Homo sapiens: one gene and its partners. The protein of the gene in region 3 interacts with the protein of the main gene of each other region in a biochemical or structural test. Each region holds a gene or a part of one and is shown on either strand. Other genes may lie near its edges.

Region 1 (3,793 bases), on a different chromosome or scaffold from region 3:
TTTATAGAAAACTATTATGAAATCCCTGCATACATAAGGATTTGTTTCTAAAGTCAGTAGAATGTAAAGTTAATCTATTCAAGAGTAAGCTCTGAAAATACTGTACATCACACATAAAGAACAGTATTTAGGCAAAGTATTGTAAAAGTCCAACTCTGCTAGTTTTTCTTATGATCACCAGTTGATCACAAGATGAAGTAATTGGCATATGTTTATAGGAATCACGTTGCATAAAATATTCATGACTTTAAACTAGTCTGGCAAGATGTGAAAGCATGGAAACAGATTAAGAGAATAGCAGATTCACCTGTCCCATTTCACTCTCACTCCAGAATATACACTCACTGATTGGAATATTGTGTGGAATTGCCTACACAATTTAAATCCCCAACCCCCTCCTGCCTCTGTTCCTCACTGTCTCTCTCCAGAGCACATAAATGTGCATGTGATGTTCTACAGCTCTTCTAGGCATTAGGGATACAGAAAAGAATAATTTAGGGCTCTGCCCTTAAGGAACTCATAGTCTATAAGTGTCCCCTTGCTGGGACACATTACAAGTTTTCCCTTTTGAGCCATATCTAAGAAAGTAGTTTGTATAGCATGGAATAGACATGCTGACTGTACTGTGAGGTTGAAAAACTAGTGGAAGAAGTGACATGTAAGTGCCCTTTATAGACTATGCAGGTTTTGCCTAAAAATTGTCAACTCAGGGTTTCTGTGCCTGTAGGTTGAATATTTGCTAAGCCTAACAGAAGGGTAAATTGTGTTTGTGTTTATTCTTTCAATCCTCTGGATAATGGTTAACTATACCCTTTGGATATCATAAAATTCTTTGATGGTATCTAAGTTGTTTTCTGCTGTAGCAATACCTGAGACTGGGTAACTTTTAAAGAAAAGAAATGTATTCATTTCTTACAGTTCTGGAGGCTGGTTAAGTCCAAGACCATGGCGCCAGCATCTGGCAAGGGTCATGCATGGTGGAAGGGCAGAAGATGGAAGAGCAAGGGAGGGCAAGAGTGTGAAAGAGAAGAAAAAGGAGTCGAACTCCCAAAATAACTAACCCATTCCCGTGATAATGGCATTAGTCCAGGGCAGAGCCCTCATGACCCTGTTGCCTCCCAAAGGCCTCAGCTCCTAACACTGCTGCAGTGGCAACCAAGTTTCCAACATGTGAACTTTTGGCGGATACATTCGTACCACAGCTAATGGGAACAACCACTGTCATTTGAGTAAACTGTGAGGTTGAGAAACAGGACATTATCTATTGAATTGTAGTTCTCACTTTCCCACAAAGTAGTCCTGGAATGTTGGACATGACTTAACTGTCCTGTGCCTTTTTTTTCTCTTTTTTTTTTTTTTTTTTTGAGACGGAGTCTTGCTCTTGTCACCCAGGCTGGAGTGCAATGGCATGATCTCAGCTCACTGCAACCTCTGCCTCCCAGGTTCAAGCGATTCTCCTACTTCAGCCTCCTGAGTAGCTGCGATTGCAGGCACCTGCCACCACGCCTGGCTAATTTCTGTATTTTTAGTAGAGATGGGGTTTCGCCATGTTGGCCAGGCTGATCTCAAACTCCTGACCTCATGATCTGCCCACTTCGGCCTCCCAAAGTGCTGGGATTACAGGCGTGAGCCACCATGCCCCGCCCTTTTTTCTCGTCTTTAATAATAAGAGACTATCCTAGGTGACCTCTAAAATTCCTTTTAGTTCTAATATCCTATTATTCAAGAATTAGCCATTGTCATTGATCAACAGATAGAATTTTAGCATCTGCCGTTTACATTTTTTTATTAGCTAATATTTTTTGTACCAGAATACTAAAGAATATTTATTGTGAAAGCTATTTCTTATTTTATAAAAAATTTTAGGTGGTTAAGTTTATATGTACGCTGTACCTTAAATGAGAATTACAGCATGTCGTTTAACTTCCACGAGACTATTTTGTTATATAGAAAATGCAAATAATAGTATACTTCATGGTTGTTGAGAAAAGCAAATTAGATTTGAAATAGATTATGACGGAAATTACAAGTTGCTATTTAAATTTTGATTGTGGGGTAACTAGCTTGTAATCTTTAACAAGTCACAAGATGGACAGTGACTCCATTTTTTTAGTTACTTTTTCATTTACATCTGAATAATTTTATTGTAGGACTAAAATGTAGCAGTTGTGAACCTTTTCCAGATGGAGCCACGAACAACCTCTCCAGATCAAATTCAGATGAGAGTAATTTCTCTGAAAAACTGAGGGCATCCACTGTCATGTACCATCCAGAAGGAGAATCCAGCACGACGCCCTTTTTTTCTACTAATTCTTCTCTGAATTTGCCTGTTCTAGAAGTAGGCAGAACTGAAAATACCATCTTCTCTTCAACTACACTTCCCAGACCTGGGGACCCAGGGGCTCCTCCTTTGCCACCAGATCTACAGTTAGAAGAAGAAGGAACTTGTGCAAACTCTAGTGAGATGTTTCTTCCCTTAAGATCACGTACTGTTTCACGACAATGACACTTTATTGCCTTTTAATTTTTAATGATGACAAAAAATGTTTTAAAGAATATGACTTTTTATAAAATGGCTGTAATCATTTGTTTACATTTGATGCATGTCTTTTAAAATGCAATGTAAGCATACTTTGTAAATAGGATTTTTAGAATTAAAAAAGCATACTTCTAGGATAGCTAACTGTAAATCATGTTGATCATGTACTTTTTAGTAATTTCTTTTTTTCCTTTTTAAGGTCTTTCAGTACTTTTTTAAATATTTTCTATTTTAAGACTGATTTTAATAGGGAATATATCTCTATTTGAGAATAGACCCTTACTAGGAAGAACGTTTTTTCCTCAGTGCATTTGTGCTAGAAATTTTCAAGAGTCTAATAGTCTTTGCCAGTCATTCAGCAGCAAATTTTCAGCATTAAGCTGTTCCTGTTCAGTAATAAAACCGGTCACTGATGGGAAAACTGCCAATATAGAAAAATAAAAATCTCTTTTCCACTCCATTGTCGTATAGGCATGTAAACAGCCTCTTTTTGATACTGGAGGAACACTTGATGGAGTGTGAGCCACCTAAGATCTCGGTTTGCCAAAATTCATTTCTAATTAACCTTACTAATTATACTACTTTGTTAGGATTTTCACATTCTTGGCTTAATCATTTTCATTCCTAAAGAAAAATATCTTGGCCTAAACCTCAGTTATTACATGTAATTTGATGAGGTATTTTTTCCTTTTTTCTTTTTTTTTTTTTTTTTTTTTTGAGACAGTCTTGCTCTATCGCCCAGGCTGGAGTGCAGTGGCGCATTCTAGGCTCACTGCAACTTCTGCCTCCCATGCTTACGTGATCCTCTCACCTCAGCCTCTCAAGTAATATAGCTGAGACTACAAGTGTGTGCCACCATGCCTCACTAATTTTTGTATTATTTTTGTAGAGACGGTGTTTTGCCATGTTGGCCAGGCTGGTCTTGAACTCCTGGACTCAAGCAACCTACCCAGCGTGGCCTCCCAAAGTGCTGGGATTACAGACACGAGCCACCTCACCTAGCCTGATGAGATTTTTAAAAAATATTTTCTCTGTACTTTTCATTCTCTTTTAATGAGGACCAATGTACAGTTGAAATAACTGGAACAAATTATTTTTGGTGTGTGTGACAATTCTGTTTTTAATGCTATTTGAACAAGTGGGCCATTAGCCAGATTTGTCTTTTTGTTGTAAAACAAAATTTGACTAATTTTACATGTTTATAAATCTTATGCTCTCACTGTTTGTTTTTATTTAAATTACAATTTTATCTGT
Region 2 (3,218 bases), on a different chromosome or scaffold from region 3:
CAGAGCCATCTGCGACACCACCAACAGGCGTTCTCAGCCTCCGGATGACACAAATACCAGAGCACAGATTCAAGTGCAATCCATGTATCTGTATGGGTCATTCTCACCTGAATTCGAGACAGGCAGAATCAGTAGCTGGAGAGAGAGTTCTCACATTTAATATCCTGCCTTTTACCTTCAGTAAACACCATGAAGATGCCATTGACAAGGTGTTTCTCTGTAAAATGAACTGCAGTGGGTTCTCCAAACTAGATTCATGGCTTTAACAGTAATGTTCTTATTTAAATTTTCAGAAAGCATCTATTCCCAAAGAACCCCAGGCAATAGTCAAAAACATTTGTTTATCCTTAAGAATTCCATCTATATAAATCGCATTAATGAAATACCAACTATGCGTAAATCAACTTGTCACAAAGTGAGAAATTATGAAAGTTAATTTGAATGTTGAATGTTTGAATTACAGGGAAGAAATCAAGTTAATGTACTTTCATTCCCTTTCATGATTTGCAACTTTAGAAAGAAATTGTTTTTCTGAAAGTATCACCAAAAAATCTATAGTTTGATTCTGAGTATTCATTTTGCAACTTGGAGATTTTGCTAATACATTTGGCTCCACTGTAAATTTAATAGATAAAGTGCCTATAAAGGAAACACGTTTAGAAATGATTTCAAAATGATATTCAATCTTAACAAAAGTGAACATTATTAAATCAGAATCTTTAAAGAGGAGCCTTTCCAGAACTACCAAAATGAAGACACGCCCGACTCTCTCCATCAGAAGGGTTTATACCCCTTTGGCACACCCTCTCTGTCCAATCTGCAAGTCCCAGGGAGCTCTGCATACCAGGGGTTCCCCAGGAGAGACCTTCTCTTAGGACAGTAAACTCACTAGAATATTCCTTATGTTGACATGGATTGGATTTCAGTTCAATCAAACTTTCAGCTTTTTTTTCAGCCATTCACAACACAATCAAAAGATTAACAACACTGCATGCGGCAAACCGCATGCTCTTACCCACACTACGCAGAAGAGAAAGTACAACCACTATCTTTTGTTCTACCTGTATTGTCTGACTTCTCAGGAAGATCGTGAACATAACTGAGGGCATGAGTCTCACTAGCACATGGAGGCCCTTTTGGATTTAGAGACTGTAAATTATTAAATCGGCAACAGGGCTTCTCTTTTTAGATGTAGCACTGAAATCCTTGCTGGAGGGAAGAGAGGGGATGAACTCAAGTTTTCCACATCCTGGGACACCTGTCCCTCTTTTCCTAACTGCCTAAGATAACCCATTTCTTCCAACCATCTGAGGACAGTCCCGTCGTCTCAGAGGCCCTGCACCGGGGAGAGACTGGGCTCTGCAGCAGCCACATCAGCATTCACAGCTTCATGTGGCTTCACTGTCTGAAAATCTACCGACTCCAACATGGCCCCACGGTGACAACAGACCTGTGACAGGAAGCCCAAAGCTCACATAGAAATGGTGGACAGATCAAAGTCTCTATAGTAAGGGAAAAAAAGAGAGGTGGCAGGCATGAGCCCCCTGCACCCAGTGGCTCGTGTCCATACTGAGTCCAGACCCTGATCAAGGCCTGACTTAGTGTCACTGGCAGTCCCACTAAATTACACTTCCTTACACTGGCCCGATGCGACAAATCAGGTGGCTCCCTTCTGTCACGTGGAGCACACAGTGTTTTCCATCATCCATAGCTTTCTTCCTGATGGTGTTTGCATTATTGCGCCTTCCCAATCTGCATGCTGCGTTGGGCTTGCGGTGCCTGAACAAGGTTTGCTCCCATGAGCTCAGGCACCCTAGGATCCCCTGTTAGACTATTAGGCTGTCCAGCATGGTCTCCTTTCCCTTCTTGGTGGTGGTCTTTTCCCTTTCCAGAATAGAACAGTGATTCTTAAAATAAGTTAGAGCAGGCCGGGCGCGGTGGCTCATGCCTGTAATCCCAGCACTTTGGGAGGCCGAGGTGGGTGGATCACGAGGTCAGGAGTTCAAGACCAGCCTGGCCAAGATGATGAAACCCCGTCTCTATTAAAAATACAAAAATTAGCTGGGCGTGGTGGCAGGCACCTGTAATCCCAGCTTCCTGGGAGGCTGAGGCAGGAGAATCACTTGAACCCGGGGGGCAGAGGTTGCAGTGAGCCGAGATCACGCCACTGAACTCCAGCCTGGGCAACAGAGTGAGACTCTGTCTCAAAAAAAAAAAAAAAACAAAAACAAAAAAGCAAGATCATCCACTACACATGAACATGAATCACAGTATTATTTGCACAGGAAGGGTGTAACAAAATATGAATGTATCAAAAAATAGAAATAAAGTCTTTGCAGAAAAAGTCTGTTTTTCTCTGAAGTGTGTTGAGATTATCTGACAACTCTAAGATTGTACTTAAATTGTCAATAAAGCATCAAAAGAGCTTCTGAGTCTGTCTTTGAAGATACATTTTCAATCAATGTGAAGGGTGACGGAGGGAATCACAGGCTGTATTACTCCATGGGCCTCACTTGTGGCCTGGAGGAATTACCTGGTGATGAAATAGCCATTCAGTGACCTGGAGGAATTACCTGGTGATGAAATAGCCATTCTCATATCAACTCCAAGCTCCAGATTACCGCTGGCTGTTTCTCTTTGTTAAATAAGAGTAGTTTTTTAAGGCTATCAAAATTTGAAAGGGTTCCAAAAAGCAAACCCTCATTCATAAAAATCTAAAAGTTACTTTCCTGCCTTACTAGCAAACTTTTCTAATAAAAGTGTTTAAAAGAGAAGTTTGCATTGGAAAAGACTATCTATAAGGATTTTTTCTCATGTCATTCTAGAAAATTTCAGTGACTTTGCATTGCTGTCAATGTGGGTGTGTTGACGCTGCATTTTCAAAGAACTGCTTTAGTGGCCATGCATTGTTTATTTCACAATGAGCCCATGGTGGAGGGATCTGGAATGGAACATTCCGAGATAGGGCCTGCACAACATTAGGCAAAGAAGTACACACTGAGGTCCTCTGGGTGCCAGTAGCCACAGGAAACACTCCGAGGATATGCAAAGGTCATGGGAATGGTGGCCCAGGTGATGATAGAGCAAAAGGGGGCAGAGAAAGTGGGTGAGCTCTGGGTGCCAGGGTGGGAACCCCACCTCCAAAACGCACCTGTGTAAGAGCTTCGGGGACAATAATAGCATGCACCACGTTAGGTTGTTGTCACAACTAATTAATT
Region 3 (4,087 bases):
ATATCTATAGACCAGCAATGAATATCCCACAAATGAAATTAAGAAAAAAACTCCCATTTATAATGTCATCAAATTAATGAAATACTTAGGAATATATTTAACAAAAGAAGTGCAAGACTTGTACACTGAGAACTATGAAACATTGCTGAAAGAAATTAAAGAAGATTTAAAGAAAGACATCCCCCTGTTCATAGATCAGAAGATTTAATATTGTTAGGTAGCAGTACTCTCCAAATTGATCTACATATTCAGCAGATTCACTACCAAAATGCCAACTGCCTTTTTTGCAGAAATTGACATCCTAATCCTAAAATTAGGTAAAAGGCACCTAATAGCCAAAACAATCTTGAAAAAGAACAAGGTTGGGAGACCCATACTCCCAATTTCAAGGCCTACTACAAATCTACAAATCTTCGGTAATCAAGACAATGTAGTACTGGCATAAGGATACACATATAGATCAATGGAATAGAATCAATAGTGCAAAAACAAATGTTTACTTTTATGGTCAGTTGATTGTCAACAAGGGTAGCAAGATCATTCAATGGGGAAAGAGTAGTCTTTTCAAACAAACTGTGCTTGGACAACTGGACATCCACACATAAAAGAATGCAACTGGACCCCTACCTCACACCATACACAAAAATTAACTCAAAATGGATCATCCTCAATGTAAGAACTAAGGTATAATATTCAAAGGCAAAAAACAGGAGTAAGTCTTCATCATCTTGAGTTAGACAATGGTGTTTCGGATACATGCCAAGAGCACAAGTGAAAAAAAGAAAAAATAAATAAATTGGACTACCTCAAAATTTGAAACTTTTGTGCTACAAACAATGCTTTTAAGAAAGTGAAAAGACAACTGACAGAGTGGGAGAAAATATTTGCAAGTCATATATCTGATAAGTGGCTTGCATCCAGAATACATAACAAAATCCTACAACCCAATAATAAAAAGACAAACAACACAATTTTAAAATGGGCAAAGGATTTGAATAGACATTTCTCAATGCACACAAATGGCCAATATGCACATGAAAAGATGCTCAACATCGTTAGTCATTAGGGAAATGCAAATCAAAACCACAATGAGATGCTACTTCACACTCAGTAGGAGAGCTGTAATAAAAAAGACAGACAATAACAAGTTGTTAGCAAGAATATGGAGGAATTAAAACCCTCATGGCTTGTTGGTGGCAATGTAAAATGATGCAGCTGCTTTGGAAAACAATTTGGCAATTCCTCAAAATGTTAAATATAGAGTTGCCATATGGCCTAACAATCCACTCTTACGTATCTACCCAAGGGAAATAAAAACATACAGTCACACAAAAACTTTTACATGAATGTTCATAGCAGCATTGTTCATAATAGACAAAAGGTAGAAATAACTCAAATGTCCATTAGTGGATGAACAGACAAGCAAAATGGGGCATGTCCATGCAATGAAAAAATCACTGAGCAATTTAAAATAAGTGAAGTCCTGATACATGCTACAACAGGAACAAACCTTGAAAAGTTGCTGAGTGAAAGAAGCCAGACATGAAAGACCATAAATTGTAGGATTTCACTTGTATAAAATGTACGGAAAAGACAAATCTATACAGACAGAAGGTGAACGAGTGGTTACACAGGGCTGGAGGAGCAGGGATTAGAGGGAAATTGAGAGTGGCTAATAAAGGGTGAGGAGCTTCTTTTTGAAATGACGGAAATGATTTTAAATTGATTGTGGTGGTGGTTGCACAGCTCTGTGAATATACTAAAATCATTGAATTGAACATATTAAAAAGGTAACTTGTATGCTATGTGAATTACATCACAATAAAGCTATTTTTAAAAACGAATGACTTAGATCTATATGTATCCATCTAGATAAATCTCAAAAAAAAATGTAGAGGGAGAAAAACATGCTGAAAAAGGAAACGTACAGTATGACACCATTTATGTGAAATTTTAAAACAAAAGCCAATAGTATATATTGTTTAGGGAACTATACATTTTTAGTAAGACATAAAAACTTGGATGGAAAGGGTAGACTCAACCGCAGGATTTTCCCTCTCTGCCCTATAAATAATCTTTTTTAAAATTGATGGCTTAAACTTCCATTGTTTATGTTTAGCATATAAGGAAATATATATTTTTATATTCATAACCCCTTTCTTAGACAAAAGGTAAAATGCTATATATACTTTAGTGTACAGGACTTTTTTTTAACTTAATATATTCTAGAGGTCACTCCAGAGGAGTTGATAGAGCTGTTCCAGTGAGACTGCTTTATTAAGCTTGTTGGGGTTTATGTCTAAAAGGAGGAGGGCCAGAGATGGATGACTACATGGAGACGCTGAAGGATGAAGAGGACGCCTTGTGGGAGAATGTGGAGTGTAACCGGCACATGCTCAGCCGCTATATCAACCCTGCCAAGCTCACGCCCTACCTGCGTCAGTGTAAGGTCATTGATGAGCAGGATGAAGATGAAGTGCTTAATGCCCCTATGCTGCCATCCAAGATCAACCGAGCAGGTAACCTTAGGACCTCTTTGCGGGAGAGGGAGGGCTACCGCACACGGCAACTTCCAGACATACCCTTTGGTAGCTGTACCAAAATGAAGTTGCTCTAGGTCAGGGATTTTTAAACTGGGGTCCGCAGTCCATCACCTACTCATTTGTGTATAGAACTCAAGCTGTCTGTGTATGGAACTCAAAGGATCCATAAACTGGGAGGGGGGAAGAAATGCCATCTTTATTTTACCAACCTCAACTGCAATTCAGCATTGCCCTCAATTGCAAATGTCAGGAAGCCACAAATTACAGGAGTGATTAGTAATTCTTGTGACTTAGGCAACAATGAAAATTACAGATCTCTTCCTATCACTACAGTTACTGCAAATCTCTCAAAATGCCACTTACACTCATCTCTCTTTCAAAATTACAGTACTTATTAGACCTGCCGAGAGGTCTTGTTATTTAATGCATTAATAAAGAAGTATGTTACTGAAACACAAATTTATTTAATATTTGATAACTGGATTTTATTATAATTGGTTTCTTTTGTAATCTGATGTACTTTATCTGTTTAAAAATATTCCGAGAAGGGTTCCACAAGCTTTTCTAGCCTGACTTCTGGAGGGGGGGTTTATCATATTCAGTAAAGGTAATAAATATGGTTTGTGAAGCTTGTTTTAATTTTACATTATGTACATGTGTATACACATGTACTTGTAGAGTTATCTTTGTCTATGGTCACTAGACCACAATGTTAAATGTTTTTCTTTCTATGGATCAGTTTAGAAGGTTTGATAATCACTGTCCCCCAGCGTGGCTGGTGGTAAGTGGCTCATCAGCTGCGACTCTCTGGCATCCATGGCAGACATCAGTAATCAGCATGCTTTCCCACTGAGCTTGGATGTAACTTTGGAATGTTTCTCGAAACAGTACTGCAGGCGGCTTCACCAAACAATCGGGGTTGACATACCATCAAATTTATTTCTTCTGTCCGTCCTAGGGAAAAGGTCGAGTTTTAAGACCTACCTTTCTTCTTCTATATCTCAGAAGAATATCTGAAAATAAAATGTTTAAGGAAGGGCCCAGAAATGTAAGCAATAAGTGGAATCAATAGTATAGAAACTGGGACCTGCTGGGGAAATTACATTTAAGGTGTTTCCAGGTTGTGTAATAATCCCAAAGAAAAACCTAGAACTATCCCTACTTCCTATGATTTTTCCTAGCCTCTCACCCAAAGATTTGTCTTCCTGCTCTCAATCCCAGAGAACCATATATTATTCCATAATTTTTATCGTGCTTCCAACCTCCTTCAGTCATAGAAGACCTGGTGCCTACGTGGTTCATTTTGGCCCTGGTCAGTTGGGAAACTCTTCAAAACTGGGGCGGCAATTCCATTTATCCTGGTTCTACCAGTTTATTAGAAACAGAAAACTAACGCTCACCAAATCCCTGCGGAGGGCCTGGCACCTTGATTTACGTCATCTGGGCTCCAAGATACAACTCAGAAGTGATAGAATGTGGGGAGACTGTCTTCTTAGAGTTGATTGAAGGACACAAGTCCAGGATGAGACCAGCCACAGAGACTT
Region 4 (3,329 bases), on a different chromosome or scaffold from region 3:
AAAATATATTTTGACATTCATTAATTGAAACAGCTTATTTGTAAGAATGTTTTTGTTAACATGAATGAAATTTGAGAGAAAAAGTGACAAAGGTAACTTTTATCATCCAAATATGAATAAATGAGAGAGGAAGTGGGATGGTAGTAAATCCAGAATGTGATAGGATAAATGAACTTAATCTGTGGAGAATCCTCTTGCTAGAAGCAGAAGAAGGGAGTTCTTAAACATTTTAAAACAAACTTTTGTTCTTATCACTTAGCTTGTACTTAATGCTTTAAGAGTCCTAGAGATTTTAGTTTGGTTTGGCTTTCTTTACTGTGGTAGCATTTACCAATTTCTTCAGTTCTGCCTAATCTTAGTTTGCATATAATATTGTCAGCTCTTACAAATATATGTAGATAGTTTTCTAAAATGAAAAAGAAATGGGCTGGTCACAGGAGGTGGGGACTTGGGATGGATGGTTTTAGCAGCATCTGAATGGAGTAGGCAGCTCTTGTATTCCTAATGTACTTTCACACACTGTAGCTTTAAAACAGAAGCAAGTTGCTGTGTTGTTGCCAACCAGATAGCAAAGTGGATAATATTCTTGGTTAACACCAGGGCAAGGTACTTTTTATACTTGGCAGTTTAGTTCTTTTATAAAATCCAGTTTGAAAGGTGTATCAGCAAATTATCTTGAAAAAGCTATCAAATAATTGCCTTATGAATGTAATCAGAACCTCTTTCAATTATAAATCTTTAAGTAAAACATGGAAACAATAATGGAAAAAATAAAGAACTCTTCAGACAGATGTAATTGTATATGATAGTTTTATTGGCATTTTAAACTACTTTGTAGTTGTTAAAGTATTTTACATTCTACTTTCTTTGTAGGGAAAGTTAAGCATAATTCTGATTTTTTTTTAATCTAAAAGTCCCATTTGGCACCCAAAAGTTCCATTTCATATGCATTACTCAGTTATTTACACATAATCCTTCAGATTGTGTGTGGAATTGTTCTCGAGCTGTGTGTTAGAGATAGGCTGCTGTGTGGGTGGGTCGAGTCTAGCTTCTGGATTCCTTTTTATACAGGAGGTGCAGAAAATCATGCCAGAGATAAACAACAGCATTGCAGAAATGAATCCGATATAGATAGCTCCTCCAGGTTCATGTTTGTTGCTTTCTGGAACTGTCAGATCCAGAAAGTTTGCTATGATCTCCTTTGTGTACCACACTGTCGAGATTAAACTAGAGATTCCTGCAGACATGAAACAGACTCCTCCAGCAAAGGAAGCATGGCTCTTGGTTTCTCTGTCCCCTCCTAAGCGAGTACATTTCATTCCTACTGTGGAAGTGCAGATCCCCAAAGCAGACAGAACACACGCCAGGACCATGGTGGCTCTCGCAGCCTGCACGTGGATGGGGAGGGACAGAATGGAGTGTTTCAGGGCACAGCTGAACATCCCAGTGCTGTACCACGTACAGTCCATCCAGAGCCCGTGCAGCTGTACAATGGCTGTTATGATGTTGGAGTCCACATCCACATTCACCTTCCAGTTGGGCAGCAGAGTGGCTGTGAGCACTCCAGAGACCCCAGATAAGGCCAGGATGAAAGCAAGGAGCTGGAGTCCTGCTGAGGCCATGATGTTACTGTTAAGTCTGTCCTCTTAGAAAATCCTGATGTTTAACAATGATGGCTGTCAGAATTCTATCTATTTCTGTGCAGTAGAGAACCAAATAACAAAGCCTAAGGAAAAAAGGCAAAACCAGGATTGAGCGAAAGAAAGTAAGTAAACAAAAGGCTTCCCTTTAGAGTAGGAGCCAAGAACACATCTGAGTATCCCCCTTCTCCAGCCCCCAAGCAGATGAGGATGCTGTAGGCTGGAGGAGAAAAGCTCCCACCAGGCCTTGAAGACTGGTCTGAGTGATATGCATGGGTGGTGTTGATACAGGGCATAAAGAAAGCAGTTGCCCACTTAATTCTTTTTAAAACTCAACATATGCTGAAACTGTAGCGTGGACATGTACGTTGTTAGGAGATTTAGACATTTGAAATTCCAGCTATAGTATCTGATAAAGAATTTTAATAGCATTATAGGTTTTTCAAATGATTTTATTTTTTATTTTTATTTTTTTTGAGATGGAGTCTCACTCTGTCACCCAGGCTGGAGTGCAGTGGAGCGATCTTGGCTCACTGCAAGCTCCACCTCCTGGGTTCACACCATTCTCCTGCCTCAGCCTCCCGAGTAGCTGGGACTACAGGCGCCCGCCACCATGCCCGGCTAATTTTTTTTTTTTTTGTATTTTTAGTAGAGATGGGGTTTCACCCTGTTAGCCAGGATGGTCTCGATCTCCTGACCTCGTGATCCGCCCACCTCGGCCTCCCGAAGTGCTGGGATTACAGGCGTGAGCCACCACGCCTCGCCCAAATGATTTTATTTTTAATGAAAATACTCAATACATAATAAGGAAGAAAATAAATTAAGGCCACCTTTTAAAGATGGTTTATAAATACATTTTAGAAAAGTATTTAGGAAGTGGCTTTCATAAACAGATCTTTATGACACACCCACAGTGCCAGGCACATAGCCCAAGTGAACCATTTGAGGAGGAAGGACAGCAGTGGAAAGAAGTCTGAGTCACTGGCATGGTTATCCCTAAGTTCTAGTTAATACCTGTTTGCAAAATCCTGACTGAGGTTAGTACTTGTTTTACTTCAGGTGCCTGGTACTCAAAACAATTAAGCCACTGTTTTTTGTATATAAGAACATGAGGTCCTTTCTAATTGGGACCAGAATCATTTCCTGGCCCAAATGAAGCCGGCTATTCTGAACAATTCAGAAGTAGTGATGGCAGATCTCAAAAATACATACCAGAAATAACCACATCATTAGTTGTATGTGAAAGGATACCAGAAATAAATTAACCCTTTATTTTCTTTGTTTATTTTTAAGAGGAAGGAAAAGACCACCTACTTTGTGGCTTGGCTGTGTTTTAAGAAACAAAAAGGCTTTCGATTCCATCTTTCTATTCCTGTTCCCCTATCTAGCCCATCTGGCACTGCTTACTGCCTTATTTGAGAAAAATGTAATGGTTTCTGAAATACTGCAGTACTGACTTTCTTTGTCATTCTGAGTTAATTTTGAATGGTATGCTAAAGTGGCTCTGTCGTGATTCATATGTATTTTACAAAAGGTGATACAGGCTCTTGAGTCAAAGACACTTGGGCCAGTTCTTAGCTTTATACCTCTCTGTGCCTCAGTATCCTCTTCTGGAAAATGGGGAGGATTGAAATACTTCGTTCATAGGGTTAAATAAGTTAATACATTTTAAGGGCTTAGACCAATATT

What was found.
Region 1: the proteins of CARD11 (region 3) and BCL10 form a complex in vitro, tested with the Homo sapiens proteins (2 studies listed by BioGRID, with this or other methods).
Region 2: the proteins of CARD11 (region 3) and PRKN interact in a test that uses a peptide from one of them, tested with the Homo sapiens proteins (one large-scale study listed by IntAct).
Region 4: the proteins of CARD11 (region 3) and CLDN20 interact in a test that uses a peptide from one of them, tested with the Homo sapiens proteins (one large-scale study listed by IntAct).

What each region holds. Positions count from the first base shown.
Region 1 is NC_000001.11:85,266,340-85,270,132, reverse strand, and holds part of BCL10 (B-cell lymphoma/leukemia 10), read left to right. Parts: intron 1-2,150; coding exon 2,151-2,506; 3' UTR 2,507-3,793. UniProt on the Homo sapiens protein: Plays a key role in both adaptive and innate immune signaling by bridging CARD domain-containing proteins to immune activation.
Region 2 is NC_000006.12:161,346,624-161,349,841, reverse strand, and holds the end of PRKN (E3 ubiquitin-protein ligase parkin), read left to right. Parts: 3' UTR 1-2,425; downstream 2,426-3,218. UniProt on the Homo sapiens protein: Functions within a multiprotein E3 ubiquitin ligase complex, catalyzing the covalent attachment of ubiquitin moieties onto substrate proteins. Substrates include SYT11 and VDAC1.
Region 3 is NC_000007.14:2,946,007-2,950,093, reverse strand, and holds part of CARD11 (caspase recruitment domain-containing protein 11), read left to right. Parts: intron 1-2,306; coding exon 2,307-2,519; intron 2,520-3,006; exon of another isoform or gene 3,007-3,497; intron 3,498-4,087. UniProt on the Homo sapiens protein: Adapter protein that plays a key role in adaptive immune response by transducing the activation of NF-kappa-B downstream of T-cell receptor (TCR) and B-cell receptor (BCR) engagement.
Region 4 is NC_000006.12:155,274,013-155,277,341, reverse strand, and holds the end of CLDN20 (claudin-20 precursor), read right to left. Parts: intron 1,727-3,329; 5' UTR 1,623-1,726; coding exon 963-1,622; 3' UTR 794-962; downstream 1-793. UniProt on the Homo sapiens protein: Plays a major role in tight junction-specific obliteration of the intercellular space, through calcium-independent cell-adhesion activity.